Linked DNA regions of Homo sapiens: region 2 is linked to region 1. The links come from fine-mapping of genetic effects on gene expression. A gene starts in region 1. The other region holds a variant in brackets. All regions are shown on one strand. Distances are between the middles of the regions. Region 1 holds the start of UNC5B (unc-5 netrin receptor B). Region 2 overlaps UNC5B (unc-5 netrin receptor B).

What was found.
Region 2: its variant is fine-mapped to the expression of UNC5B in whole blood (INTERVAL, PIP above 0.99). The same link has a PIP of 0.9 or more in monocytes after LPS.

What each region holds. Positions count from the first base shown.
Region 1 is chr10:71,205,599-71,220,954 of GRCh38, reverse strand. It overlaps UNC5B (unc-5 netrin receptor B), which reads right to left and starts at 8,385. Exons shown (of 17, transcript NM_170744.5): 1 at 7,891-8,385. The coding sequence starts at 7,969. UNC5B-AS1 (UNC5B antisense RNA 1) reads left to right here and starts at 2,727. Exons shown (of 2, transcript NR_038453.1): 1 at 2,727-2,961; 2 at 3,320-3,731. It overlaps LOC112268061 (a long non-coding RNA gene), which reads right to left and starts at 1,347. Exons shown (of 2, transcript XR_002957083.2): 1 at 1-1,347. RefSeq lists enhancers at 1-137, 4,739-5,358, 8,329-8,623 and silencers at 8,225-8,484, 11,625-11,684.
Region 2 is chr10:71,227,082-71,242,437 of GRCh38, reverse strand. The region is part of intron 1 of UNC5B (unc-5 netrin receptor B); the gene reads right to left. It overlaps LOC112268061 (a long non-coding RNA gene), which reads right to left. Exons shown (of 2, transcript XR_002957083.2): 1 at 1-15,356. Among named protein-coding and RNA genes, the nearest start is that of UNC5B-AS1, 17 kb to the right of the region's middle. RefSeq lists enhancers at 4,870-5,616, 5,617-6,364, 6,373-7,124, 8,633-9,386, 9,432-9,942. The variant A/G (reference allele first, on the strand shown) is at 8,421.

The DNA.
Region 1 (15,356 bases):
CTTACAGATGGGAAGGGAAACCAAACAATCAGAACCCAGAGAGGGAAAGGCACTTGCCTAGGGTCTCACAGCAAATGAAAATCAAGAGCCAGAGTCTACTAACTCCTCAGCCAGGAGCAGCTGAGACTCCTGGTCCTGACCTCCCAGCTTTCACTCCCGTGGAGGAAGATGATGATGCATTGCTAGGCTCTCTCCGGGGCAGGCTGCATGCCAACAGGCCCTGAGTGATCACTGTGTGCCGGGCACTGTGCTAAGGGCTTTACCATACATCAGCTCATGAGACTCTCAAGGCAATTCTGAGGATGATGTTATTATTACCCCCATTTTACAGATGAGAAAATGGAGGTACAGTCCAGTTAGGTGAGCTGCCCAACGTCACCAAGTTAGTCAGTGACAATGCTGGGAGGCCGTGTTAACCTCCTTAGAATTCCAATTGGCAATGCCATGCACTCTTCTGCACCCGCAGCTAAGGCCCCGGGGAGAGGTGTGTGTGGAAAGAGAGCAGCTGGGGGTTCCCAGAGGTGGTGATGACAAAGGATCTCCCCACCCCTACCCCTGCCAAATGGCTCACAGAAGTGCTAGGCAGATTCCATCCTTCCCCTTCTTACCCACTTTGTGTTCTCTGGTGGGGGCAGGGCAGAAAGTAGGGAGATACCTCCCCATGTCTCCACCCCCAATATGATCCCTACCAGTGCTTAGAAAGTATTTTCTGGGCTCGTTCCACCTTTGGGAGCCATACAGAGAGATCCAAGAAGAAGGCCTTTTGCCTCCAGGGCCTGCCATGGTCCTAGCCCACAGAGTCAGAAGCAGCTGAGAGGGTTCGTGACCCAAGCGCACACATTCAGTAGAACCTGGGATGCTGGGAGGTGGAATGGGGCCAGAGGGTTTGTTCTCCAAGGATTGGTGTCCACCTCAAGATAGTGAACACAGCAGATGCTAACAGGGGCAAATTTCCCAAGAGTAAGGAGAGGTCGGCTGGCACCCCTGCCCACATACCCAGCTAGCTAGCCCCCATCCCATCCTCTCTTCAGGACATGCTCTCAGAAGAACTGGAAAAGGACAGTCAAGGTCTGGCACTCATCACCTGCCCCAGGAAGCCCCATGCCTTAAAACCTTGGCTCTGCTATGCTCTTCCCTGCATATCATCTGTCACCCTCACATGGCATCTGCAATGCTCTGAATGCCACTTAACATTTCTAGAGTGGACATCAGCAACACTTACAGACAGCACCTCCTCGAGGGCTGTGGCCAGGGCTGCTTAGGAGTTCTGACCTTGTGATGGTTAATACTGAGTGTCAACTTGATTGGATGGAAGGATGCAAAGTATTGATCCTGGGTGTGTCTGTGAGGGTGTTGCCAAAGGAGATTAACATTTGAGTCAGTGGGCTGGGAAAGGCAGGCCCACCCTTAATCTGGGTGGGCACAATCTAATCAGCTGCCAGCAGGGCTAGAATATAAGCAGACAGAAAAACGTGAAAAGAGAGACTGGCCTAGCCTCCCAGCCTACATCTTTCTCCCGTGCTGGATGCTTTCTGCCCTCGAACATCAGACTAGAAGTTCTTCGGTTTTGGAACTCGGACTGGCTCTCCTTGCTCCTCAGCCAGCAGAAGGCCTATTGTGGGACCTTGTGATCGTGTGAGTTAATACTTACTAAACTCTCCTTTATATATATATTAGTTCTTTCCCTCTAGAGAACCCTGACTAATACAAACCTGGGTCCCAGTCCTGTCTCTTCAGCCTTCTAAGTGAGAGCTTCCACCTTCTCGGTGAGTTCTTACAAGGACAAAGTGAGACTGCACATATAAAAGGGTTTTGTAAACTGTAAAGCAACATGCACACCAGGGTGGGGCGAGGGACTGTGATTTTCCTATAGGCCTCCCTGCTCCAGAACAGTCCATCTTATCCTAGAGTTGAAGTGATGGAAGTCCTTCCTGTGGACAGCCCTGGGAAAGCAGGTAAGCGCTTCTGTGACCAAGAAAGTTGTAACGACAGTGGAGTCCAGCATGTGTGTGGGTGTGTCTGTCCTCTTTAAATTGCTACCGCTGAGAGTCCCAGGCCCCAGCCACGTCAGCCTGAGATGGGGTTCTCCACTGGGGATCCCACCCACTCAAGCTCTGCTGGCCCCTTCTCCAGCAAACTCTAGAGGAGAACTCACTCCCTTTGGGGGAGACAGGCTGAAGCATAAGCTGACCCAGGTCAGAGAGCAGATCTCCAAACCACAGCCGCTCCCATGCTCTGGGGAAGCTGGGAGTTGACTGCAGAAGACTCCAGGTCTGGGACTCTGATCTTCCTGGGGGCAGTAGCCCAAGCTGCTGGGCTGGCTTAGGGTCCATCTCTGCCAACCTTCCTCCCCCTGGAGCACCAGGACCCACCTGCAGGCAGGCCTATCCCATCTGCACTCAGCAGGGGAAGCTGTCCTCTGCCCTTCCAACAGCAGAACCTGGCACTCAGGCCAAACCCTGCTCACAGTGCAGGTGTGGGGCAAAATGAGGTCTCTTAAGTGCTGATGGGCAAATGGCCTGGGTCCCATCCTGAAGTGGAATCCCCAACGGAATACAATGGATGGAGCTTCCCATGCCTGGTGGTGACTCACTGTCTCCACATTACACATACCTATTTATACACAAACACACCACAAGTGTGCCCATGTGACATTGCCCACCCCACACACACCCAAACACAGACACAGCCTATACATCACACCTCCTGAGTTACAAAAGGCACAACCCTCCTCAAACACACATCCATCCTCCGGCACACACCCAGTCCATGCCTCGCCCCCACACACACCTGACACCCCAGTGCAACACCACACCCACCCTCCCCTCCCTGCAAACTCCCACCTCCGCCCACCTGCTTAATACACATTCTCACCCCCCACACACTCCTTAATACATACTCTCACACCCACAAGCCTGCCTTCTTGGAGAAGTGAGCCGAGCCGTGCAGCGCCGCGAAGGGGTAAGTTGCAAGCACTGGGGGCAGCCTGTTCTGGGAGGTGAGAAGGAGGGCGGCTCCGTGCACTCACTCGCTAGGCGGTGGCGTTAGAGCTCCCGGGGCTCCGCAGACCGATTTAGCTCGGCTGGGGAGGGAGGTGGAGATGGGGACTGGGGGTGGGGGACGCAGGAGAGGGTAGAATCCAGCCCCACAAGCGGCGGCGATGCTAATCAGGCCGCTAAGATGGAAAAGGTAAATTCTGGCGCCCAGCAGCCCAGCGCTTTTGGAGAGAAGGAAGAGGAAACAAAAGGGGTGGGGGTGGGGGAGCGGGGAGGCGGCTGATTTATGCCTGCACTTCAGCAAATATTTTCGCTGCCATTAGCATCCCCGAAGACCGGGAGGAACGCCGCGGGGACCTGTGGCTTAGCGCGCTCCGCCCGGGCTTGTCTGCCCGCGGGGGCGCAGCGGCTGAGGCGGCTCCGGGCCGGAGTTCCAATCAAGCGCCACCCAACTCCCAGTCGGGGGCCGAGGCCAGCGCCGGGATGCCAGCTTCCCCCAAAAAGATCCTGCCTCAGGGAAATGCATGGAGCCGGCGGAAAAGCCCGCGGCGCCCCCGGCGGATCGCAGACCCTAAGGGGGCGGGAGGTGGCGCCCCAGTCCCAACCTCTTGAGCCAACCCAGTGGGTGGGAAGTGCCCTTACCCTAGGCCTTCCGCAAAGTGTTCTCTCCTTGTATTATTCTAATTACGGTATTTTTAATTTCCTTAAAAAAATAAGAAACAGAAAAGCACAGAACGCACTTGTTTGGTTTCATTTTGCCTTCACAGCTTTAATGACTCTATTTGTGGAAGCTGTTTAGGAAACTGGTGAGGAGGAGAAGGAGGAGGACGCCAAGAGAAGCGCCAGCTCTGGCCTGAGCGCCGGCTTTCTCCTCCCTACCCTCTGGGGGCCATCTGCCCAGGCAGCAGTTTCCCTGGGCCCAGGCTCCCACCCCCAAGTCCCAGCCTATGACCCAGCCCCCTCTGCCCTTTCCTGAAGGCGGCAGTGGCCTCCAAACTGTCTCCTTTCCACCCAACCCCAACTCTGAGGGTCAAAAGACGGGCTGCCTGCAGGCCCTGGGGGAGGGAGGTACCAGCACTGTCTATTCAGAATCACTAACCTGGTCCGAGAGCACTTGGAATGGAAATGATCCATCTCCCCCCAGCCCATCCCCAAAGTCTTAGGCAGCCCACAAACCTCCTTAGAAAACCTCTGTGGCTCAGGGAATGGGGCGTAGGAGGCAGACCTCGTCTTAAGCCTGACACCCAGGAAAAGGGTCACTAGACCTGCGGTCCAGGAGAAACTCAACAACAAAGGTGGGGGAGGGCACTGGCTCCTAAAGCTTTGAATATAAGTAAAAAGTAAAAACATATTCTGTCCCCAACTCTACAAATGGGTGCAGAGCTATAAAATGCTAATGTTTATTTGGCCATGCAGCCCAAGGGAGCTTGGCTTGTGACCTGTCTCCCTTCCCCAGGTCAGGGCAGTTGCTCAGGAGGCCAATGCTGGGGGTTGGGGGAGCCACCTTTGGGCACTTGCCTGGTCTCAGAGCTTCACTCCTGACCTTTGGCTCTGCCCTGTTCCCCCTCTCCTGGAACACCTCTTCACCCTTCCAACTCTCAACCTCTTTCCTCCATCCTGCCATGAGTTCCAGTCTAAAGCAGCCATCAAAGCGATCTTATCTTTAGCTGCCTGCCTTAAGTGGTGCCTCAATTTCAGAGTCTCAAGCCCACACCCATGATGGTGGGTCTCCAGCCCAGATGGAATGAAGGAGCTAGAAGCACTAGATTGAGGTTGTGAGGCCTCAGTTCAAGTCCTGGCGCTACCGGTGAGTCCCAGTGTGACCTTGGGCAAGTTGGCCTGTCCCAAAGTGTCAACAGTTAAATAAATGGATTGGAAAAGAGGGGAACTGTTTTATCCTACAGAATTCCCTGTTTGTGGGGGAGGGGAGAGAGGTGGAGGAGAGAGATTACAGGAGAAATTCCTCCCCTGCAGTGGTACTTTCACTTTAATGAGAAAACCCATTAAGACACTTGATTTTCCATTTGTTTAAGTGAGATGGGTGTTTGCTACAGTGAGTGCAGAGGGAGACAAGGACAGGCTATCATTGTGTGTGCACAGGCGCATGCACGCGAGCACACACACACACACACACACACACACACACACACACCAAGCAGAGACACTACAAAAACTCTGATTTTAATTGCACCTTAAAAAGAAGTATTATCTTGACACCTCGACTCCTTCTCAACCATCCCAGCCAGAGGCCATGGAAAGGCTCATTAAAAGCTCCAGGAAGGGCTGAAAGGTGGGGTGGGAGGAGATTTCCAGGGCCAACCAGAGCTTTTGAAGTGGCCTTTTCTGGCTAGTCACTTGCTGACATTACCTTCTAAGGGTCTGGGGTTTTATGGTTCCAGTTTTGATTTCTCCAGCATCAGACTTTACAGCTTAAAAATATTCTCAGTGCTGTAAAGGGAGCTCATTCCCATATTCACCAGGGATGGGGTGGGGTGGGGAAAAGGAGAGAGAGGTGCCTGCCACTTGAGGGGAGCTTGGACACCCCCAGTAAAGATCCCTCTTTGCAGAGAGAGCCTCGCCTGCCTCAGTCTGTTATGAGTCTCATGGCAGAGGGGTGGGTGGATAAGAATAGGAGGGAGGGTCTGCTGGGCTTGAATCAGTCTGGCTATTGGACAGGAGCCCTTCACATGTCTTCAATCTGTGGCCAAGTGAAGGCAAGATTTGGAGAAAGCCAACACTCTGGCCTTGATTTTCCCCATCAGTGAAATGGAGCTTGTGAAGGATCCAATGGAAAAACCCAAAGAACATTCTGAAAGAATGATGCTCTGTGCCTGTGGCATTAGAGAAAAACAAGATTGTGTGGGAGGAAGGGACATGTTCTCCCTCCTGAAGGCAGGTTTCTAAGGGCCACACATTCTGGGCAATGAGAAGGCTGCAGGCCGACCCCACCAGTTGGCCCCTCTCCAGGCTGGTGGGCAGGCAGCTACTGCCGCACTAAGTAATGAGCACAATTCCAACACCGCTTCTGCTCGCTGGTGAGAAATCAAAGCCGGGTATTAGAGGCCATTTCTGACTGGGCACCATTCGTGCCCAAATCCATCAAAGCCCTGGGCCTGGGGTTTCTTCTGGGGAAGGTGGGGGCTGGATGCTTTGTTAAGCAGGAAATGCAGGCCACCCCCAGCCTTCTTGGCCAAGCCCACCCACCCAGAGAACTATAGGCCAACCAGTCTTGTCTTTCTCCTACAGCAGCCCCTCATTCCTGGTAACCTAAGTATTTATTCCTGATCCCACTGTCCTGCTGGTACAAAAGCAGCTTCCCAAGACACAACCCTGCCCATGTGCCATTTACAGAGACTTCACCCTACCCTTCAATCATCTCCTCAAACCCCCTCCAACCAGAAACCAGCACCCCAACCAAGCACCTCCCACGTCTAACTGCACCCTTTAAAACAAGGTTGGACATTCAGCAGCCTGCCTTCCCCATCCCCATCATTACCTTCCAACTTCAAAACACTGCTTTAAATACCAGAGTCTGCCCAAATCATAATTAACTTGGATCAAATGGTTGAGTGTTGTAACTCTACTGCACAGGACTTGCACCAGAAAAAAAAAAAAAAGTGGGGAATGTGCTAAAGCCAAGCCCTCACTCCTGGCCGTGGGAATCACTAATTCCAGAATGAGGAATCTTTGGCTATGGAGGGGGGAAGGGCGGATGTCAACTTCGCAGCAGGAGGTAGGAGGTGGGGAGGGCTGCGTCATCTCGTCCACTTTCTGCTCCAGTTTTCCTGCTCCATTCTCAGCCTCAACTCAGAGAGGACTCCGTGCAGGAGGCCCCGTCCCCACCTGGCTCCGGAGCCGAGCCGCCCGGCAGCCGTGGCCAGCCCACTTGCTTGGGTTCGGGTACCAGAGAGAGGCTGGCTCCATTCAGTCCACAGCCTCCCCGAGAAGACGCAGCCCAGCCAGCGACGCCGGGTCCAGCTACAGGACGAGCGAGAAACGTATTCATCCACGGCGAGAGAGGAGGGTTAGGGACTTTATTTCGGAGCCCACCAGTTCGCTGAAGTCATCTTGGTGGGTCCAGAGCGGGCGCTGTACCAAGGAGAGCGCACCTAGTCTGTTCCCCGGACAGCGAGAATGTCAGTGACCAATTTAAAAGGAAACTCCGCAGGATCGCTAAGAACCCCTACCCGCATCCAACACACACACACACACACACACACACACACACACTCTCCAACACTCAGAAAATTAATAATAATAATAATAATAATAATAATAATAATTCTTCCAGACCTGCGGGCCCAGCGATCTCGGGGAAAGCTATGTGTGCAAGACTTAGCCCTCCCCGCTTCAGGAGCCCTGCAAGCCGGCCTGCCGAGGCTACCGAAGCGCTTCCTGTGTTCAGCAGGTCTTTTCGCTCTCTCCCTCTAGTCTGCAGATTGCTGTCCCTATAGCGCGTAAGAGCCTAGGCGAGCCGGGACCAGACTAGTAAGTTACCGGCGTACGGCAGCGAGCGCACACCTTGCTTATGTAGCCAATGTTCTTTTTCGGGGCGGATGCCAGGCGCGCGGAGAGCCGGGCGTCCCCAGGAGGCGGATCCTCCCGGAGACTCAGACCCTGACTCCTACACCCCTTCCAGGGAGAAGAAGGGATCCCTTTCAGGAGCGAGCAGGGACCTTTCAGCTTACTGTGAAGCCCCTTCCCTGCTCCCCGCTCCCGCGATGTGGATGCGCCATTGCCCACTTTGGGAGGCAGTAAAATCTACATTCTAACTTGGGCGCCCTTGCCGCTTTTCCTGCGCGCATCGATGCGACGAAAGACCACCTCAACTTCAGGACAGAGTGAGGCGCAAGGGTCCCCTAGCCCCGCGCCCCCAGACCCGATCGCTTCCTACCTGCTTGGCTCAGCCTCGGGTCCCAGCAGAGCAGCAGTGCCAGCAGCAGCGCGCCCCGAGCTCCGCTCCGGGCCCCCATGCTCCCGCGGCCTGGTTCGGGCGCCTCTCCCCCAGGGCTGTCTCCCTGGCCCCAGTCTCGCCGCCGCCGTCTCCGCCGCCGCCGCCTCCTCCTCGCCGTCCTCCCCGGCGCCCGGCAGCGCCAGCCCGTGCCTTCCGTGGGGGCAGCGGAAGCCACGCTGCGCGGAGGGCCGCCTGGCACTCGGAGCGCGGTGGGTGCCTGGCGCCGGCTCTCGAACGAGGCTCCGGCGCGCCCCTCTGGCTCCGGGTCTCTGAGCGCTCGCCTGGCTCCGGCGCTGTGCCTCCGAAGTTGCGCGACCGCTCAGTGGCGCTCGCAGCGGCGGCGCCGCGCAGTCCCAGCCCCAGTGCGCGCCTCTCGGAGCCCCGCGGCTGCGTGCGGCTCCGGCGCCCTAGCCGGCCCCAGCCGCCTGCCACAATGCCGAGCGCCGCCGCTCGCTCGCCGGAGTGAGTTCGCCAACCGAGGGGACCGCGCGCGGCCGGGGCGGGGCCTGGGCGACCGAGGGCGGAGCCGACAGGGGGACCTTGAGGGGGGATCCGACGGCCATCTGGGCGCGGCCGCGGCAGAGCTGGGGGACCCGGGGGGAGGGTCCTCGCGAGACGCTGGGCGCAGCGTTTTGAAAAACCCGGCCGCTGGAGAATGGCTGGACGTGGAGGCGGCCCAATTTTCGCTCCCCCAAATTAAGGAAATCTGGCTTTGCGCCTTCATTTGGCTTGGCCATGTCAGCTTTCTCCTCTGATTAAACATAGGACTCTCACTTTTGGCTCCCCTGTCTGTAGTATGCGCTCTGCCTTCCACATGTGGGGGTCTTTCCAAAAAAAAGGCTCCCAAAATGAGAACACCCAAGTCCTGGTTACGCGGGGGCTTACAGCGATATGAAGCTGGGTATAGATTAGGATCATCCTGGCTGGCTCTGCTTGTCTGTATGATCTCCGGCAGAACTGTTAACCAGACCCCTGGAAACCCCTCCAGCACTCTGATCCTGCGTTGTTGTAAACTAGCCTCCTACCTGACAGTGGGACAGCCATTTTTGGCTCAGTGTAAACTTGGACTCTGCCCCTTATTTACTGTGTGACCTTGAACAAGTTACTTAACAATTCTATTGCTCCCTTCATCATCATCTGTAAAATGGAGGAAAAGGATAACTATTTCATAAGGGGGTATAGAATTAAATTTTAAAACTTGTGTGGAAATTGCAGTGCAAGTGTCAATAATCTCTTTCCAAGATTCTCCCCTCCCAGCCAGTCTGATTCCAGGGGGAAAGTCCTGACCACCCAAAGGTGGTCCAAGGAGCACGTGGGGACAGGTGAGGTTTGAAGGATGGGCAGTGTCTTGGGATTGAAACCCAGAGAGATCAGAACGAGCGGATCAGCTAACATAGGCAAAGACCTTCCCTGTGCCAGGCACAGGGCTAAGCACTCTGTATGCATCATGTCAGTTAATTCTCACAACCCTCTGAAGTAAGCACCATTTACATCCCATTTTACAGATGAAGGACCTGAGGCACAGAGGTGTAAAGCCACCTGCCGGAGATCACACTGCTTGGAGTGACTGAGTGACTGAGCAAAGGGGATGGGGGAGATGGGATTGGAAAGAAACCCTCTAAACGGGGGAGCCTCACTTGAACACCTTCCCTGGGGCTGGATTGGGCTGTGCGAAGGGGACTGTCCTAGCTGTTTCCCCAGAGGTGAGGTGAAGGCAGGACTAGTACCCTCTCCACACACACTCCCCTCACAAGCCGGGGTCTTGGAGTATCTAGGGGAGGTCGTGCATGCCATCAGCACATCTCCCTAACCCTCTCTGACTGGGCACCCAGCATCAGGAGGGTGGCAACAGGTGGACTGGGACTCCCTGGGGGAAGAACTTCCATCAATTGAGAAAGGCTGCTGTGGGCAAAGGTAGGTTGCTTAGCTTGGCCTCTGACAGCCCTAGCAAGGGCAGTGGATGAGACAGTCAACAGCTCAGCACACCCAAACCAACTCCACCTTGCAAATACACATGCACACACACAACTACCCACCCATACACACCTGCAAAGGTACACACACGAAAACATACAACAAAGACAACAGGTGCAATGTTTCACCTCCCATAAACATCACACCTACAAATAGGCACCCGACTCCAGAGACACCCACATACCAAAGATGTATGCCTAAAAAAAGCAAACACACAGGCGCACACAACTAAAAACACAAATAGGCAGATGACTCCCAAGACAAATAGATATTTGGATACTTAACTACTGCCAGGAAACACATACAGGCACGCCTGTGCCAAGACCCACATCTGACGGTCATCCCCTGGATGCAGGCACATGGTCAAGGTTGTGCCTGTGCTGGAGAGCTCAGCAGGGACCTCAGCAGAGACGGGCAGCATGCAGAGACCACAGCATGTTCTCTCTCTCTCCCCAACCTCTTTCTCTCTCTCCTTCAGGCCAGTGGGGTATTGGAGATTTTTCTAAAAAGTTCCACCCCTTGGAACTTTGCTGTTTAGGTGGTAAAGTGTACCCAGCAGGCCCTTCTAGTCCAAGTATCAGGTTTCACGGCTTTAATTCCTGGGTGGAGAGAAGGGGGACTGGAGATGGGGGCAAGCAAAAGGAAGACATTACCCCCTCTCCTGCCAGTCCCTGCCCCACTTCCCTTCTCAGCCTAACCACTCTCTCAACTCTTGAAATATACTCTTGGGAGGTCCCGGGCCCTGCTCTCCCTCCAGGACTCCAGCATCAGGGCATGGGATTTTGCATGTTGGGAATCTCTCTGTAACTGCTCTGTGCCCCTGCTCCTGTACCAAGTCTCTGAGCCTTCTCTAGCCACCTGCAGCTGAGCAGTTGCAGATGTGGTTCCTCTCCAGCCCTGGCATCTCAAGAGTGCAGGCTGTCAGTTGAGGCCAGGCAAGGGGCTTCAGAGGGAGTCAGACTCCCCCTGAGCCATACCTTTCCCCGGGATGGGTGAAGAATGGGCAGGGTCCCTGCCTGGGGGATGACACATTAGGATAGCAGGATTAAGATTTGCCAGGGTGTTCCCAAACCGAGTGCCATGGGCCTCACAGCAAAGGCATCCTGCTGGGAGTTAAGCATGAGGACGAAGCAGTGAGTTGCTTGAAGTCAGGTGCCCTGTGTTCCCTGTTCCCCATGATATATCTAGCACTGAAGACAGTTTCTGGCATAGCAGGGATGCAATCAACCTTGGTTGAGTGGGTACATCAATAAGGCTGGGGGGAAAGGGGTTGATGGTCAAAGGGCCTAAGAGTTGCTATGTGAGCCCCACCCTCCCCTCCCCTCTATTTCCTGGGGTCTGGGGGTTCTGAGGCTGAAAGTAGGGCAGGCTTTGTGGCATAGATCTGCTTTGAAATCAGTCCCAGAGCCAGTTCTCACCCTTGGTGGGGACTGCAGATGCTTCCAGCGGCTACCATCACTTGTCTCAAACCACAGGAGTGTGTAGGAAAGAGTTCTGGATCTGGAGGGCTGTGGCCCTAAACCTGGGGGCTGCTCTTACCTGCTGGCGGATCTTAAGCCAGTTACTGAAACTTTCCCAGCGTCAGTTTCCTCAACTGTAAAACAGGAATAATAATTACTTCACAGTATTAAGAAGAATAATAAGGCCAATAATCTGGCTGTATAAAAACCGCCTATTTGATAACAATTACGATTTAAAAGCAGCTGTAGGGGCTCCCGGCAGGAGTGGCTGCCGGCTTGGGGTTGACGCCTCCCGCTCCGTCGGGACCGTGTGCGCGAAGGTGCCACCAGGCGGCGCGCTGCCGCTTACGCCTCCCCGTGGCCGCCAGTCTCCCTCCTCCGGCGATGGGAGAATTGTCCTGGCCCCACCCCGCCTGGGGCCGCCCTGACAGAGTCCTTGTCCCGGGTTGTCAGGGGAAGTGGCACTCAGACGACTCCGTTTGCAGGATCTTGAGTGGGAAGGCTTGGGAATGAGTTCACGGTGCCTCCCCTGAGTCGTTCGGTCCAGAACGGACCCCAAAAACCTGGACCCTGGAGAAGGGAAGCGCCTAAAGCTGAAGTCCTTAACGCTTTACCATCTCTTTGTAATAATATTATCAGAGCTAAGGTTGAGTGCTTACTATATGCCAGGTACTATTCTAAATCTCTTCGGCCGGGCACAGTGGCTCCCGCCTGTAATGCCAGCACTTTGGGAGGCGGAGGCGGGCGGATCACTTGAGGTCAGGAGTTCAAGACCAGCCTGGCCAACATGGCGAAACCCCATCCCTACTAGCAATACAAAAATTAGCTAGACATGGTATCGTGCTCTGTTAATCCCAACTACTCGGGAGGCCGAGGCACGAGAATCGCTTGAACCCAGAAGGCAGAGGTTTTCTGTGAGCCGAGATCGTGCCACTGCACTCCAGCCTGGGCGACAGAGTGATACTCTGTCTCAAAAAAAAAAAAAAAAAAAAAAAAGTACCGCTTTAAACATTTTAAAGTGCACAATCCAGTGGTTTTTAGTATATTCCCAATGTTGTGCAGCCATCACCACTACCTAATTGGAGAACATTTTTATCACCTCCAAAAGAAACCCCATACCATTAACCCCATTCTCCCCTCCCCCAGCCCCTGGCACCCACTAATCTACTTTCTATCCTATTCTGGACATTTCATATAAATGGAATCATACTATATGTGGCCTGGGTCATTAAACTTGGACTCTTAACCTCTACTAAGTACTGTGACAACCTTCTTCCTTCCATCCTTCTTACCCAGTCTTTTCCACCAACCCCTCCAGGGTCTTCTCACTGCTGTTCAGGCAATGCAAGCCGTTGGTCACAAAAGCCTTGGGCTCAGGCAGATCCGGGTTCAAATCTCAATTCTGTCTTGGACATTATAACTTATTTATCGCCTCTGCTGTCACCTTCTCAAAATTCTTTTATTGTTGTAAATGTTTAAAAGGCCATCTTTTCATTTTAGAAGAGTTTTAGTTTTACAGAAAAATTGCAAATATAGTACAGAAAGTTCCCATATGCCCCTCACCCAGTCTCCTTAATTATTAACCTCTTACATTAGCATGGTACCTTTACTACAATTAATGAACCACTGATACATTATTATGTGCTAAAGTTCATTCAGATCTCCTTAGTTTTTACCTAATGTCCTTCTGTTTTCTGTTCCAGGATCCCATTCAGGATCCCACATTGCATACAGTCATTGTGACTCCTCAGGCTCCCCTTGGCTGTGACAGTTTCTCAGTCTTTCCTTGTTTTTGATGACCTTGACACTTTTGAGAATTATTCATTGGGTATTTTGTAGAATGTCCCTCAACTAGGATTTATCCATTTCATAATTCTTAATAATTTGGAAAAAAGGGCTCTGATTTCCACTTTATACTGGGCCCTGGAGATTATGTATCCAGTCCTGCTTATGCTTTATGGGGCAGAGAAAAGGCAGGCTGAGCCAGAGCTGGCACATGCAGCAGGCTGTAGCTAGCATGCCCTGGCATTGCCGGGGGTGGGGATTGGGGGGCTTATCTGAGTGGGGGATGCTGGAAGCTAGACCTAGGAGTGAGAAGGAAACCTTAAACATGGAGAACTCAGGAGGGAGTCCAGGCAGAGCAAACCACGTGAGCAAAGGCCTAGAGTTATGTATGTGATGGTATGGTCAGGAGGTGGCCACATCCTCATACTGCCCCTCAAACAGCACACCAGAAGGCCAAGAAGGGAAAAATCTCTACACAAGGGCAAGGCCTGCAGTGCTAGAGATGAGATTTGATTCTGTAAGAAACAGGAGTCATGGGTGCTGATTGAGCTGGAGAGAGGCCTCATTGGAGCTGTGCCATGGGAGCTTCCTTGCAGCTGGATGTCAGGGCAGACTGAGCAGGAGCCAACAAGGTGGCCACTGCATGCTCCTGGGACAATGGGGCCTTGGCCCAGGGATTCAGGTGGCAGAAAGTAGGGACTCTGCAGAGGGAGAAAGAGTTCCCCAGATTTGGTGCCTGAGGGAGGGTGGGTACTTAGGGATGGAGGAAGGGAGGGGAGCTGGGTCGAGTGGCAGAGGTTGCAAGGAGAGACATGGTGAAAGGAGGAGGATGGCTGGGCTGGGGAGAGGGTGGTGGATTTGGGTTTGGACTTGGTGAGTTAAAGGTCCCTGTGGACTTCCCAGCACATAGCAGTGAGCACAGGACTGACTGATGCTACAGGAGTGGTCAATATCTTAAGAAATAAGCATGCTAGCTAGTGTATGCTGGGTGTATTAGTCAGGGTTCTCCAGAGGGACGGAACCCATAGGATATATGTATGTATATAGGGAGAATAGGCTCACATGCTCACAAGACGAAGTCCCATGATAGGCCGTCTGCAAGCTGGGGAAGAGAGAAGCTGGTAGCAGCTCAGTCCGAGTCCGAAAGCCTCAAAACCAGGGAAGCAGATGATGCAGCCTTCAGTCTGTGGCCAAAGGTGTGAGAGCCCCCGGCAAGCCACTGGTGCAAGTCCCACAGTCCAAAGGTTGAAGAATCTGGAGTCTGATGTCCGAGGGCAGCAGGAGCCAAGGGAAGCATCCAGCACAGGGGAAAAAGAAGGGAGCTAGAAGACCCAGCAAGTAAGGTTATCCCACCTCCTTCCTCCTGCTTTGTTTTGGCCACACTGGCAGCTGATTGGATGGTGCTCACCCACATCGAGAGTGGGTCTTTCTTTTCCAGTCCACTGTCTCAGATGTTAATCTCCTCTGGCAACACCCTCACAGATACCCCCAGAAACAATGCTATATCAGTCTTCTAGGCATCCCTCAATCCAATCAAGTTGGCACCTAATATTAACCATCGCACAGGCAACTATAGCAAGCTAGAAACCCTGCCAAGAGCTCCGTCTGAGTTAGCTCCTTCATTCTCCATGATTACCCATGAGGAGATGTTATGATTTTCCCCATTAAAAAGTAGTTCTCATTGCTGGTATCTTTTAAGCAGGACTAGAAGCCATTAGTATGTACAGAAGTTCCCCACCCTTATCTGCGGTTTTCCTTTCCATGGTTTCAGTTATCCACAGTCGAATGAAGTCCAAAAATATTAAATGAAAAATTCCAAAAGCAAAACAATTCATAAGTCTTAAATTCTGTGACTTTCTGAGTGATGAAATCATCCCTTTGTCCATCCCTTTTAAAAATGGGAAAACAGACTTGGTTTCCCTGCTTAGCTAGAAACTGAGGCTAGAATCAAACCTAGGCTGTTGGCTTCTAAGCTTATATGTTAAACAAACACAAGACGCTGCCTCTTTAAATCCCCTGTGTGTAGTTCTTTTATCTTAATGACATGATTTCCCACTGATCATCTCAATTGTTCCTAGAGGCTGGTGTTAATCATGGCCTATGACAAAGGAAACCACAGCTCCAAAAGGGAAAATGACTTGTCTAAGGTCAGCTGGTAAGTACTGACCCTGAGCTTTTAGACGCACA
Region 2 (15,356 bases), 21 kb before region 1:
CTGCTGGAAAGAAGCCCACGCCAGGCTCTCCTCTCCCTCAGCAGTCTTTCCTCTCTGCTGAACTAGCTCGGGGGACCTCAAAGTACCTCACAATGAGCACTACCACTTTCTGGCCATGTCGTTTTGGGCACTGTGGGCCTCAGCTTCCTCATCCCTACAAAGGAGATCATCTCACCCAGGGGGAGGTGGGGCGAGGTCACATGTCATAGTAACAGACACAGGGTCTGGGCCACGGCCGACGGACGCCACGCAGGAAGGGAGTCACAGGGAGGGCCTGAGACAGACTGTGAGGGAATGCCACGCCCCCCCATGTCCTCTCCCCACTGCACTCCAGGGGGCTGGGGTTGGCCTAGGAAGAAGGGCCTCAGGCCTCCACAAAGCCGACCAGCAAGCTGGGCCTCTGTGCAGCCTCTCTGAGCACCAGGTCGTGTGTGGGCATCTCACTGGCAGCCAGGGACTGCTAGGCAAGTCTCACCTCCTTCTGTGGTGACTCTAGGCCAGCCCCACATTCCCTCCAGGCTGTAATCACATAGGAGGTGATACACAAGATAACTAACAGGCTGCTATTATCTCTATTGTTAGAAGTTTATTATTACTGTTAGCCTGGCCTTCACCCACTCTAATGGCCCAGGTGCACCATGATGATCCTGCGTCCTTGGGCGGCACTTAGAAGCACTGGGCCTCCACTTGGGCAATGGTAATGGGAGGCTCTTTCCAGTTCCGACAGCCTGTGATTTAAAGATAGAGATCTCCTGGGGAGATGCCAGGCCAAGGAGAAGACGGGCCTTCTGTCGTGGTGCCAGTTACTACTGTTATTGTTCAAGTACAGCTCAGCCTCCCAGGGACAGAGCTAGATGTGCCCGATAAGCACATTTCCCCTCTCTCTGCAGCCTCCCCCTGCTCAGATAATACATGTGTTCACCAGGGCCTCTGGCTCACTCCTGGAGCAGACTAGAGCCCTGGAGACAGCACTAACCCAGGACACGAGCTAGTTCTCTGACTGGAGAGGGCTACGCGGCAGTGGGGATATGGGGCATTTGAGGAGGTCTTCATGTGTCTTTACAAGCCAGGTGCCTGTAGGATGTTTCTGCGGGGCTCTTGCTGAAGCTACTCAGTTACAGACTCTCTGGGGGGGCCTTCGGCACTGGCAACCCACCAAGCTTCTCAGGCCTGCTTAGGCAACCTCTCCTCTAGCTAAAGTGAATCACAGCTAACTGAGTCTCAAGACAGGAGCCCTGGGAGGTCTGGAGCTAGGACATGAAACCCAGCTGGTTGCTTGACTTCTCTAAGCCTCAGTTTTCTCCTCTGTAAAATGGGGGCCTAGTTCTTGCCTAAGGAGGCTTTGAAGATGAATAGGGTCAATACAAGTAGAGTGATCTGACCAGTTCCTGGCATACATGTAGGCTACCATGATGATGGACTCTCAGACACATCAAGTCCAAAAACAACAACAACAACAAAATTATAGAATCTTGGATTCGCAGGCTGCTAATTACAAGAAGCTCAGCAGGCCATCCTGAACTTGCCCTTCAGGCAGGGATTCCTATTAAAGTCTTCTTCTTGGCCCTTGGGGACTGGTACCAAGGGGCCTGCCCCATCTTCTTCTAAGGGCCGTCAAAGGAACCTTTTGGTTTCTCAGCCACAGGCATTCTCAAGCTAGACAGATGGACAGCCAGAAATATCAGCTACGCCTCTGCTGTTCCTGCCCCCATCCTCCCCTCAGGTCTTTTAGAAATGAGACCGAGTAGTGGAGCGACAGTGGGGGAGGAGGAGCAGGCGGCGGGCAGCTGCTGGGCCGGGAGGAAATCATTGCTGGTAGCCTCTGCTCAGCCGTGACCCTAACAGGAAGCGATCGTGAGGGCCCCTTGGGAGGCTGGAGTCTGAAGACAGGGCGAGGGATGGGGTTTGGACCTTCCAGGCCTCATCACCCGTGTCCACCCTGCTGGCCCTGTGCCCACGGCCTGTGCCTATCAGAGGCAGGCCACGGGCATCACCACTATGGCTAGTCCACCCTGAGAGCCTGCCTTCCTTCCTGGGGTTACTGGGGTCCCCCCTACTGGGAGAAGGGGTATCACGCTCAAGAGGTTACATGAGAAGAGGAATTGAAGTATCCTTGGTGGTGAGTGGCTGGCCTGGGCCAGTGGGCAGAAGCCAGAGGATGCAGATTTGGGCCGGACACCAACAGCTGCCCAAGTCATCCAAAAAAATGCAGCAGGCCGCATGGCAGAAGAGTGAGCATGCCCATGGGGGGAGGGGGCACAGGTTGGCACACGAGAAGCGCGGCTCATAATCTCCGGGACTCCCTCCTGCAGCAGGGCTTCTGAGGTGGAGAATGGAGAGACCGTGAGGGTGGGTGGGGTAGGTGGGGAGGGAAGGAAGGCTCAGCAGGAACAGCAGCTAACATGCCACCTTCCCTCACCCGCCTGGAGCCCCAGCCCAGCCTTTCCTGCCTCCAGGCACCCCACACTGGGCACCTGTTTATTTCTCCATGAGCCCAAGGCCAGTCCCCTCACAGAATGGGCAGCCTCCCGAGGGCAGGCCCAGGGGTTTAGTATATATACAGGGTCTGCCAAATCCAGATGTGTGTGTGCTCACATGCAGATCACAGGAGGGAACCCTGTGAAGATGACCGGAGGAATCTGGGCTTCAGGGTCACCCAGGGGCCCTCTGGCACCAGCCACCATATGCTCTGCTTATAATCTCTGGGGCTCCCACCCATCCAGCAGGGGTGTGTGCCCACTGCCCGCCCCCGTGGATGCCCTGCTCTTGCACTGCTGAACAGAGGACTGGGGGTGGAGTGGGCTCTCCAGACTGGGCCACTGCAGCTAAGCACCAGAAGCTAACCTCAGCGCTGGGCAGGGCCTGGCATGGACCTTTTGACTAACATGCACAGCCTCCCATGAGGCTGGAACTATTAGTGATGGGGAAACAGGGCCCAAGAGGTTAAGTGATCAGCCAGTGACATGCATGAGGAGCCCCTAACTGCTCAGTCAGGACGGGCGACCCTCATCCCACCCACCCGAACTCGATGGCCACCCTCAGGCCCATTCCCTCCCTGTGCCTGGGGCCTCCTGCCACCTCAGGCACCCCCTCTTCATAACGAGGTTCTCCTGGGGGTGGGGCGTCACCTCTGTTAATGTTCCTTTATAGAAAATGTTTCCCCTTCCCAAGGCCGCTGCTAAAACCTGCCCCACTACCCCCAATGCCATCCCAACGCAAGTAAGCCCTGGACACTAAGGTATCTACTAGCTGAGAGGTTTTCTGGCACATTGAGGGAGATGATAAGTCAGTCTTCCCTGGGTCACTGGCACTGTGGGGGCAGAGGTTGGCTTAGGGTGGCTGGGAGACACGCCACTCAAATCTGAACCCACCCTCTCTTCCACCATCCCAGGACAGCTCAAGGGCAGGGAAATGAACAGGGTGTTACCAGGCCTCCATTTCTAAGTCTGAGCAGGCAGAAGCCTTAACTCCCTCGTCTAAAGCCTCTAGGGATTAGCCAGGCATGATGGTGCACACCTGTAGTCCTAGCTACTAGGGAGGCTGGGGCGGGAGATCATTTGAGCCCAGGAGGTCGAGGCTGCAGTGAGCTATGATTGCGCCATTGCACTCAAGCCTGGATAACAGAACAAGACCCTGTCTTTAAAATAGTAATAATAATTAAGCTTCTGAGGATATGTATAAGAGAGTGAAAATGCTGCCCAGGTGTGTAATCCCAGCACTTTGGGAGGCCTGAGGCAGACAGATCACCTGAGGTCAGGAGTTCAAGACCAGCCTGGCCAAGATGGTGAAACCCCATCTCTACTAAAAATACAAAAAGTAGCCGGGCCTGGTGGCTCATGCCTGTAATCCCAACTACTTGGGAAGCTGAACCCAGGAGGTGGAGGTGGCAATGAGCTGAGATCACGACTCTGAGCTCCAGCCTGGGTGACAGAGTGAGACTAAAAAAAAATAAATGCAAATGTAAGCATGGAGTCGAGGCCTCAGACGTCCAGCAGGGCCTATCGCTAATCAGAAACCACAAGACATTCTGAGTGACAGGATTGAGAACAGGAGTGAGTGTGAGCAACAAAACTTGGGGTCACTGGAAACTTTGGGAAGAAAAGAGCCACTCTGGAGAAGTGGGCCCTGGGCAGGGTGGGCGTTGTGGGGATTTTGCCTGACTTTCAGGACCCTTTGCACCCTCCAGAACAGTTTACCCCTGAGGTCTTCGAGCAACCCCTTCCTGTGGCTCCAAATGGTAGGGAGACTGGTGTTTCCAACAGGAAACGGGCTTTCCACCCAGGGCAGGGGGGCTCCCAGCACCTCTAGTTTTTAATGATCACACTCCTATTTATTTAGCTTCTGAACAGCTCCAGATTTCTGCCTGAGGGAGTTACAGGCTGTTGGGCTATTTGTGGCGAAGTTAATGAGGCGACTCAGTGGAAGCTGCCTTGTCTCCCGTCCCCTTCTGTGGGAAGACACAGGAAGCCCCTTGATCCCCAATTACCTGCCTGACAGGAGCCTCTCCCCACCTTCCTCATCTTCCCCAGCTCCAGGTACCACACCTCTTCCCCCAGGCTCACCTGGCTCATCACCAATGAGGGAAATGGACTGGCTGAGGTTTTACCATTTCCACTTGCCTTAAGGTGAGCATCAAATATTTCTTGAGACAGAATAAAGGACTTACAAAGTCCTAGTAAAGACCACTTCTGCTCCCAGTAAAACTACCTCCTTCCCGATCCTATAGAGGCCACAGGCTGGAGATGGAGGCAGGAGGCTTCCAATACGGACTTCACCGCACCTCCTTCACACTAGGTGCTGCAGGAACACCTTGCATAATAATAGTTAATGCACTCAGGATTGCCAGCTTTGTGCTGAGGACTTCCCGTGTATTTACTTATTGACGTCTCACTGCTCTTACCCCCACTTTACAGATGAGAGAACTGAGGTCTTAAGAGGTGACCCCAAGGGCACATGGTCAGTAAGAGGCAGAGCCGAGTTTCAGACCCAGGCTAACCAACTCCAAAAATGCCCAAGCACTGAGTGAGACGGCTCTCTCTCTAAAATCTCATTTAAACCTCATGGAGACGTTATGGGGTAGATTGCTATTAATTCCACTTTGTGGTTGAAGACGAGGCTCACATGGGCTAAACTGTCCAGGAACACGTGGTTTGGAAGCAGGGAGGGTAGTATTTGAACCCATGCTGTTGCCAGAGCTTTTCCACATAAACACGAGTCTTGGTGACCAGGCAAACAGGGGTCATTAGGGAACGTGCACTTGGTCCCCAGAGTGGGCCTCTGCTCACAGGCTCTGTGGCCTTTGCTATTCCACACCCAGCCTGGGATCCTAGCTACCCTCCGCCCAGGCAGGCCTGTTTGCCCACCACCTGTGCTTCCTGCCTCTTCTCCAAACCTCTGAATACCCTGGAGCCCCCATCTACACCTCCACCTCCTCCAGGAAGCCTTCCACATCCCAGCCGTGGAGCTCACTCCTCTGAGCTGGAGAAAATGTGGGCGTTCTCTTCAGGGGCATGCATCTTCTCTCATTCCTAAGTGGAATTTTGTGAGCTCCTTGGGGGTAGGTTCTGGGTCCCCTTGGAGCGAGGCACAGAGAAGGGAATGATAAATATGGGGGTTCACTGCTCTCAGGACCAGGGTCCCTCTGGCCTCTTGAGGGCTTCACTGGACCTCCCCATCCATTCTCCCAGAGGAGAAGCAGAGCAGACTTCCTTTGCACAGAGAGGAAACCAAGGCACAGCTAATGGCAAGAGCCAGGGAGTCTCCAGTGGGGGCTCGGGCAGGGAAGCCCAGCACCCATGAATGAGGAGGCCACTGCCGGTCAGTGTGGGGCGGGAGGGCCCTGGGTCCCAGCTCTGAGGAGCTCTGAGAAACGCTTTACGACTTTCTAAATGGGCCTCTGCTGACAGCTTAACAGCCAGCTCCTCCCTGCCCCGGCTTCATATTTACGAGCTGGCTCTGAAGGGGGGCTCAGGAATCCGGCCCACACCACCCGATCCTCAGCCCTCTGGCTCCAGGGCCAGGAAGCCATAAAAAATGATCTTGCATTGCTTCCCTTCCCCCACATGTTTTAGGTGAGGCAGGGCGGGCATGGCAAGGGATGCTGGGGGCAGGGAAGGTGTAGGGTCTTTCTCTAAGGCTACACAAGCACATTCTCACAGAGGGGAACTCAACTGCCCAGGCTTTGCCCAGTCCTGAGGTCCCTAGTCTGAGCTGTCAAGGGCTGGACATACTCATACTTATGGGGCACCTACTGTAAGCCAAGGTGTCACCTTCAATATCTCATTGAATCTTACAACAACCCTGAGGAGTTTGACAAAGTTTGGAAAGGTCTTTGGACTCAGATCTCCACTGTTCCCTCCTGCCCCGACCAGAAGGCCCCTTCAGTTTACAGTTGACGAGTGAGACCCAGAGATGGAAAGGAACTTGCCTAACGTCACACAGCGTATTAGTGGCAGAGTGTGGACCTGAACTAGGGCTCCCAGCTCCCAGGGCAGTAGGACCCATGCTGCAGGCTCCTGACATGCCAGTGGGCGAGGTGGGGATGATCCCTTTGCCTTCCACATGGGTCCCTCTGTCTATAGATGGCCCAGATGCGACCAGGTGCTCTCTAGGGCTCTCAGCGGCTTGGGCACTCTAAGGCTGGAATTCCACAATGGTGCCTGGTCTGAAGCCCAGTTGGTGGGGAGCTGCCCTTCCTTTTCAGGTTGAGGCCAAGAGGCCACACCAGCCCTGGCCATTCTCTAAGCTCAGTCCTCAGGGCTGGAGGCTGGGCTCCGGGAACCCCCTAGGACCCCCCTACCAGTCCCTAAGTGTCCTCCCACCGTCTGGCCTGGGAAGGGCCAATGTCTCCCACAGGATGTGGCCGTCTGGCTGGCTGAAGCCTCTACCACATCCCCTCTGGGTGCTCTCCAGGCCCAAGGCTGAGGAACGCTGACCACGGAAGGAACCCCACCCTCTGTCCCCATCCCAGCCCACGCTGGCACAACCTCCAGTCCACATACCCTCTTCTTCCCGCTGAAGTGGGTCAGTCCCACCCAGGGAAACCAGTCCTCAGCTCTCTGCTGAGTTCAGGGCTCTGGCTACAGTGGGGGCTCAGCAAATGACCATCAAGCCCCCAGAGGGGTTCAGAAGGGCTGGTGGCTGCAGGCCTGTTAGTCCCACCCCTCCTGTCTTTCTCTGTGGTCTGGGCCCCTTCCCTGGTGGCTCCCCTAGCGAGGGGCTGTCTGCAGATAATCAGGGAACAGATTTGGAAAGAAGGAGGAAAAAAAGCACTCCGGCGCCAGACAGGATCCTTATCTTCTGGGGCGGGATGTCTGTCAGAGGCAGAGGCAGAGGCAGAGGCAGAGTCAGAGGCAGCGGCAGCGAGTCCTGCAATAGGGGCCCGGCATTGCAGCCAGGCCGGGGGAGGAGGGGCCCCCCTGGGCGCTGGGGGTGGGAAGGGCTGGCCTCTCCTTCTGGGCCAGGAGACCAGTGGGAATCTATCTGGCCTGCTGGGGAGGGGATCTGGATGCCAAATCCTGTCCCCTCAACCCAGCTTTTAGGATGAGTCTCCCTGATGTGTTCAGAATGACCCTGGGACCTCTGCAAATAGAGCAGAGGAAGAGAGGCCCAGGTTTCCAAGTCTCCCAAGTTCCTAACAAGGCAGCAGGGCCCCCAGACCCAGCAGCCTGGAACTGGCTGGGGAACTGTCTTAGCCACAAGACTCTGGCCAAGTATTCTAGCTGCATCTAGGTGCTCTCACCTGTAGAATGGGGATGAAACCCCACACGCCTCTTGCACTGAGCTATTAGGCTTCTCCCCAGGGATTCCATCTAGAAAGTGCCTTGCAAAGGGAAGGTGTGTTCTGCCTGGGGCTTTGAGCTTCCCACCCCAGGGGCTCCCTGCTGGTTCTCACACAGCTTGACAGACCAAAGGAAGGTCATACAAGGGGCTTTGCTTCTTATGCTGGTCCCCAGAATACTTTTCAGTGAAACCCCACAACATGGTGAAGGTCCTTTTCATAGAGCAGAGAGCAGGTTTTCCGATGGGGTACTGTTTCCCCAGGGCAGTCCATAAACCTTGGGACCAAGAAGCTTCGATTCCCTGGCTTGGACTTCTCTGGGCCAGGCCTGAATCTCAAGAATGAAGCCTCATCTCCGTGAGGGCCCCAGCAAAAGCCCCTGGAGGGGGCGGTGTCAAGTGCGGGCCAAGGGCACAGGCCCTAATCAGGCTCCAAATCCAGGCTCTTTTGCTGCTTCCTGGCTGTGTGACCCTGGGCAAGTGTCCTTATCTCCGCCCCCCACCCCCGAGGTTAATTTCCTCATCTATAAAATGAGGAAGATATCTCTTCAGTGCTAACATTTTGTAACTTCACACTTGACCTAACCGGCTCTGCCCCTGAGAAACTTGAACCGTAAAAAGAAGGGAGCCATATAACACAT[A/G]TAACTGTACTTGCACACTCATCAGGCAGAGAAGCATCAAATCAAGTGTGCCTGTGTGGCCTGGAGCACCCTGGGACCAGGTTCCTTTGTGGACCCTGTTTCTAATCTCCTGGCGGCCTCAGCCAAGAGCAGTTAGAGTGGGCTGGCCTCCTGCAGGAGTTGGACCAGTTCATCTCCCAGGGATGGGCTGCAGGAGGAAATGCCAGCAAGGGTCCTGACAAAGAAGGAAAGGCTTCTGTCTGGTGCTGGGGATTAAAGGCACACTCCCCTGTGCCCCACCTCCAGTTCCCTGTGCCCCACCCCAGCCCCACCAGAACCTGGCTGGCCTGTCTCCCAGCTGCCATCTGTAGGGGTTGGTCCTCATTAACTGCTGTGGCAGCTGAGGGGCTGGGAGAGGGAGATGCAGGCTGCAGAGCTAGAAACTAAAGCCAGGCTGGGACGGTGGCCACCTCTGGAGCTAGAGTGATGGACCGTGGAGTGGGGAGGCAGAGGGAAGGGGGAGACAAGGGAGTATAGGGACGGGTGACAGGCTTGGCCAGTGGGAGAGGCAAAGGTGAGAGCTGGCTGAAGCCGCCAGCATCTTCCGGGCTGTTATTCTGGGCAACATTTTATTTATTCAGAGGCTAGGGATGCGGCTCAGCATTGGTTGGCTCAATATTTATTACAAGTGCATTGACCTTGTACTGTGGACCCCGTGATGGGGCCACCTCAGGACCCCGGGATGGGGCCACCTCAGGATCCTCATCTCCTCGGTGCTAGGACACACTTGAAAACCTGCAACGAAAAGCCGAGGGGTCCTACCTTCCTGGAAGACCACCCAGTCCAACTCTTGCTTTACCTTTGGGAAAATTGAGGTCTGAGGCAGAAACAACCTTGCTCAAGGTCACAGGGCACACTGGTCCTTGATCCCTGTTCTCTTGGCATTTAGGCCATCAGAATGGACAAGTGCTGTGGAAGTAGAAATACTGCAGACCACATTCAGAGGGACAGCGACCTGCCCACAAGTCCCCCATCAGGTGCAGACACAGCTGGCAGAAATCCTGGAGTAAGGTCGCAGCTTTGTGTACAAGGCACTCAAGCTCCCTGAGCTTTGGTTTCTTCCTCTCCACGAGCAAGGTAATCATGCCCATCTCACAGAGTGGTTGGGAGGACTGCATGAGAACACCCTGGAAACTGTCAAGCCCCATCCTACTGGAATTGGTTTATTCACTGACATGCTGCATGGCAGGCTGTGCTGGGAAGTGAGGCAGCATGGCCATGGGGGACTGGCATCCATCCATGGCCCCTAAACCCCTTCCTTATCACAGCTACCAAGGCTAGGCAGGCGGCAACTAATAAATCGGCAGTAAGAGCTCCTTCTTAACCAACTGAAGACATGTAAATGACCCAAAGCAAGGCCAGGGCTGCCAACTGGCGGAGCTCACGGTGACATCACATGCCCATTTGCTCCAAGCCTTCCAGCAGCTGAGGTCAGCTTGCAAAGTGGGAGCCCCTCCCCCTCCAGCCCCGTGCTGAGCCAAGAGGAGCATGGCACTGCCAGGGCTGGGGCTGGGGCCGGGGCTGGGCCACCAGCTCAGGTTCCACGAGTTCCTCCCTCCTTGTGCACTCCCTCTGCAATCGGCTCTCCTCCACCCTCCCTGACTGCATTTCCCTCATGAACACAAGATTGCTACTTCTCATATAACACATACGCGGTGGTGTGAACTTCTGGTAAATGAAGATCTTATTTAAAACTGTGTGCTATCAGAGGAGGAGATGAGATAGGTTTTGACACAGCTCAGCTGGCTTGCCAGGAAAAGGAGGTGCTGGGGGGCTGTGCACAGAGCCACAGGCCATTCCTGGGAGTTCCTGGGCAGTCATCGGAGATGGGCCACAAGGCTTCTGGCAATGCTTTCAACTCATCTATGAGGGTCAAAAAGGGTATCCCTTTCTTCATCTTTGCAGGAGGGTTCAACAAGGAGGTTTCCCCATTTGAGAATTCAGTTTGCTGTGTGGAACAAGTGGCTTAACCTTGCAGGGCTTTCCAAGAATGCAGAATTTTGGATCAGAGAGGCCTTGGAGATCCTCAGGTTCCAGGGTCCTCTACCTCAGCTACACAAGAGGACCACCTGGGGGACTTTTAAAGATCCTGACGGCCAGGCCAGAACCCAAGACCAATTAAGTCAGGATCTCTGGGTGGGACCTAGGTGCCAGGTGATCCCATTGTCCAGCTAAGGTTGAGAATGACCAAGCTAGTCTCTTTTTAACATAAGTGTGCCACAGAATCACCTGGGGTGTTTTGTCAAAATTCATATGCCCAAACCTGGCCCACAGTCCCTAAACCAGAACCTTTAGGGTAAAGGCCAGGCATGTGCATTAAAAAAAAAAAACTCTTAAGATTTTTACGTACGATTGTGGTTTTTCGTTTGCTAAGCACCTGTTCACAAGGGCCCACCGTGTGCTGGGCACCGTTCTGAGCATTTAGGGTACATTGCTGAGCGTACACAGCCCTGCGCTCCCAGGCTGGGGAGTCAACACATAAGTCTGTATTCAAACAACCATTCCAGATGGCAAGAAGTGCTGGAAGAAGAGTAAAAGAGGCAGGGGGCCAGGAAAGGACTCTCTGGGGAGGGGCCATTGGAGCCGAGACCTGGATGACAAGGAGCCAGCCACGCCAAGCTCAGTGCGAGAGCACTCCCTCCAGAGGCACGTTTGCTGATGTGTGAAATGACGACTCTAGCAATGGCCGAGCCCATACTCTCGCCAACCCCCACCTCACCCCTACTGTATTTTTAGGGTGCCCAGCAGGAAATGCTTGGAAGAGGCCAGTGGGTGTCACAATGGCACCTTCTGCCCCTCAGGAAATTCTATAGGCTGCTGGGCTAAGGGGACTTTACGATGCACAGCTTATATAGCTTTCATATAAGGAATCCTATGGTTCACTAGTCCAACCCCCTCATTTAACAGACAGGGAAACTGAGGCTCAGAGAGAGGAAGTGATTTGCCTTGCTGTAGCATCTCTGCTCTGACAGGGTTAAATGGGACAATGACTTCACCATGGAGGTGGCTTGCTGCTGTCAAGCCCATTGTCTTTACCCCCAGCCACACCCCAAATCCCTGTTCCTGGCTGCTCTCCATATAAACAACCTGTGTGTTCCAGCCATGGTACAAGTCTGTGACACATCCAGGGAGCTTGAGTGGTGGGAAGGTGGGGAACCCCCACTTCCCTGCTTCCCTGCCCCATAATCTTTCTGTGGGCGGGAGGTCCTTCCTCCCACACAAGGAAACCCATGAAAGGCCAGACAGAATGGTGCCAGATAAGGCCATGGAATTTGGAATTTGGTGGGATCTAGAATTTCCCTTATGGGGAAGGCTGGTCCCAGCTGTCCACCCATGGTGAGTATCCAAAGGGAGGCTGTGCCAGGCTCCAGGGATGTGGGGGGAGGCCCACATACCCAGGGCCGGAGGCCTGATGAGGTGGGGAGGGCAGAGAGAAGGTGGCTGGTTGTCTTTGGAATGTCCCTCCCCAGAGAGGCAGGCTAGGTCCACAGGTCACTTGGTGGACAGGACATTGAAAGCAATTTTGACCTTGGCCACTGGCCTGCTCTGCTCAGTCTGATGTCCACGTTTGTGGTATAGCCAGGAGGGCTAGAGGCTAGGGACTGCCTGTCTTCAACCTGCTTGGCCTTGGCTTCTCTGTGTGTTCAGGGGTCAGCAGCTTCCCTCGCTGAGCCATGGAGTGGAGGTAAGTTCCTGGCTCCCAAACAGGCCTGCACCCCTCCTCACTCTGACCAATCAGAGTGAGGGCCCTCAGGTTCCTCCTAATCACAGCTGAGTTCCCCTAGGGAAAACATGGAGGTAAGACAGGGTGTCCTTGAAGGACTATCTAGAATGGTCTACAATGCTTCTTTTCTTAATCTTTCTCAGCTACCAAACCAAGGCAAGAGCAGAGAGGAGGAGGTAGGGGTGAAAAGTCAGATGATAACAGTGTAGGTCAGGAGGTAGCTCTGTCTCAGTTTGCCCAGCCATAAAAGGGCAGTGAAAACACTCCCCCTGATGACTTCGTGGGGCTCTTGAGAAGCTCAGAGTCAATAAGAGGGTGTTTCTGCATGCCGCGCTCTGTGCCTGGGAGCAACAGGCATCACCCTGACCAGCGACGGTGGGACAGCCAGAGATGGCATGGGGCTGATTCTCACCACCAGCTCTTACTCAAGCCAAGGGACACGGGGCCCTCATGCACCCCTTTATAGGGTCTGCAAGACTGCGGTTCCTAAGAAGCTCTGAGAACTACACGCCCTGCCCCAGAAGCACAACAACTCCCTAGAAGGAGCCTTGGAAAGGAAGTCCAGGGAAGTGAGAGGGAGATGCCCCAAGGTCCCAGGGAATTTCTGTTTAGCCTGCCCTTCCAGCAGAGATCAGGGCCTCCGGGAGCTCGGGCAAGCGCTCTGGTCCAGTGGGCCGTGATGGGAAGGAGGGTGGATGGCTTGATCCACGCTTCCAGCGACCCCTTTCCCTTGAGAGGTCAGACCCTCAGCAGGCCCTGCCCCGCCCTCTGCAGGCTCCTCAGGATCCAGGGGCAGGGGCGGAGGAGGACACTGTCAAGGGTGTAATAAACAACTTACTGACTGGAAAGCAGAATTCTCAGGCTTGGAGCAGGACCTTCCGGCAATCATGCCCCCACCATCCTCCCAGGGTCTCCTCTGCTCTCTATAGGAGCTGAGGTCTGGCTCAGCCTCTTTTCCAGCAGACCAGCTGATCTGCCCCTGGGGCTTGTTGCTCCCCATGCACCCACAAACACCCACTCTCTCTGACCAATCCTTAAAATGGGAAAGGGGCTGACTGAGGCTGGCTGACTGGCCTGTGGGAAAGTGCCAGTTCCGTCCATCAATCAACAGCTCTTTAGCGAGACAACAATCACGTTGGTGGAGGAGTCTGCATTTTATAAAGCAGCTCCAAGTTCGATTCCCTCACCGCCCAGTCACTCCACAGGCAACTCCAGAGCATCCAGCACTCCCTGGGCATTGAGGGAGGTGCGCAGGGGATAAGGCCCAGTCCCTGCCTTGGGGAGTGGGTGTAGGGTGGGCTCATGGAAGGAGCACCGAATCTGGAGTCCAAAGGCTAGGGCTGAACCCAGATGAGGCCCTGACACTAAAAGCTAGATTAGGGTGGGTCACTTCACTTTCCTGAGCCCCAGTTTGCTCTTCTGCTAAGACCTTCCTCCCAGAGCCATCGCAAGGACTGAGTGAGACAATGCATACACAATGGCCAAGGTGGGCACAGAGGAGGCCCCGTGGGTGCCCCTCGGGTGCTCAAGCCCCCTCCACAACTGAATGTGAGGCCACAGTGTTTCATGTTTTCCCGTCTGGTAAATGAGAAATGGTATCTTGTAGTTGTTTTACAATATGTGTTTATCTAATTCTGAGTAAGTCTGTTCGAGGGTCATTGTTCTATTTTATTTTGTGCATTGTCTGTCCGTGTCTTTTTCTTCCACCTTTCTGTGAGGGCTTGATCCTTTGTTCCTTGATATTTAAAAGCACTTTATATACCATAAATATCAGCCCTTCGTCTGTGGCATATGTTAGGAATATTTCTCTCAGTTTGTCAAGTACTTTGTCTTCTGACTTTGTTTAAGGTGTTCTGTGATTTTTTTTTTTGTCGAAAATTTAAAAATGTTCATGTAATAAAACTGATCAGTTTTTTTATTTTATTGCCTCTAGATCTTAAGTCATAGTTAGAAAGCCTTTCCCACCCACAAGTTTAAAAAGGAATTTACCCATGTTTTCATTTAGTAGTTGTATCATTGTTTACATCTAGATCCCAAATCCACTTGGAGTTCATCTCTCTGTATGGTGTGAGACTTGAATCAAATTTCACCTTTTCCCACATAGCTACCCAGTAGTCCGAGCACCATTTATTAAAAAGTCTGTCTTAACCCCAGTGACCTGTGATACCACCTTTGTTATGTACTGTATTTCCGTAGACATTTGGGTCTAATTCTGAACTTACTATTATCTTTGGTCTATTTGCCAATTCACACACCAGTAAGCACACTGTTTTAATTACAGAGGCTTTCCAGTATGTTTTACTATCTGGCAGGAATAGTTTTACTTCTTCTTTACCCCTTTCTAATGCTTCTAATTGACTTCTCTCATTTAATCACATTTGCTAATACCTCTAGCGGTGAATACTAGCAGAGGTGAATACCAGCAGGGTATCTATTACTGATCTTACTGAAAGTACCTTTAGTGTTTCCCCATTAAATAAGATACCAGCTTTAGGACTAGGGTATGTATGTGTGTGTGTGTGTGTGTGTGTGTGTGTGTGTGTGTGTATATGTGTGTATATATATGTGTATATATATGTATATATGTGTATATATATGTATATATATGTATATGTGTATATATATGTATATATGTATATATATGTATATATGTATGTATACAAAATTTATTTTTATTTTTATTTTGTTTCAATAGTTTTTGGGAACAGGTGGTATTTGGTTACATGGATAATAAGTTATTTAGTGGTGATTTCTGAGATTTTGATGAACCCATCACATAAGCAATGCACACTGTACCCAATGTGTAGTCTTTTATCCCTCACCCCCTCCCACATTTCCCCCATCTCCCTAAAGTCCATTATATCATTCTTATGCTTTTGCATCCTCATAGCTTAGCTCCCACTTACAAGTGAGAACATATGATTTTTAGTTTTCCATTCCTGAGTTACTTCACTTAGAATAATGGTCTCTGGCTGGGTGCGATGGCTCACACCTGTAATCCCAGCACTTTGAGAGGCTGAGGCGGGCAGATCACCTGAGGTCAGGAGTTCGAGACCAGCCTGGCCAACATGGTGAAACCCCGTCTCTACTAAAAATACAAAAATTAGCTGGGCATGGTGGCACACACCTCTAATTCCAGCTACTCGGGAGGCTGAGGCAGGAGAATTGCTTGA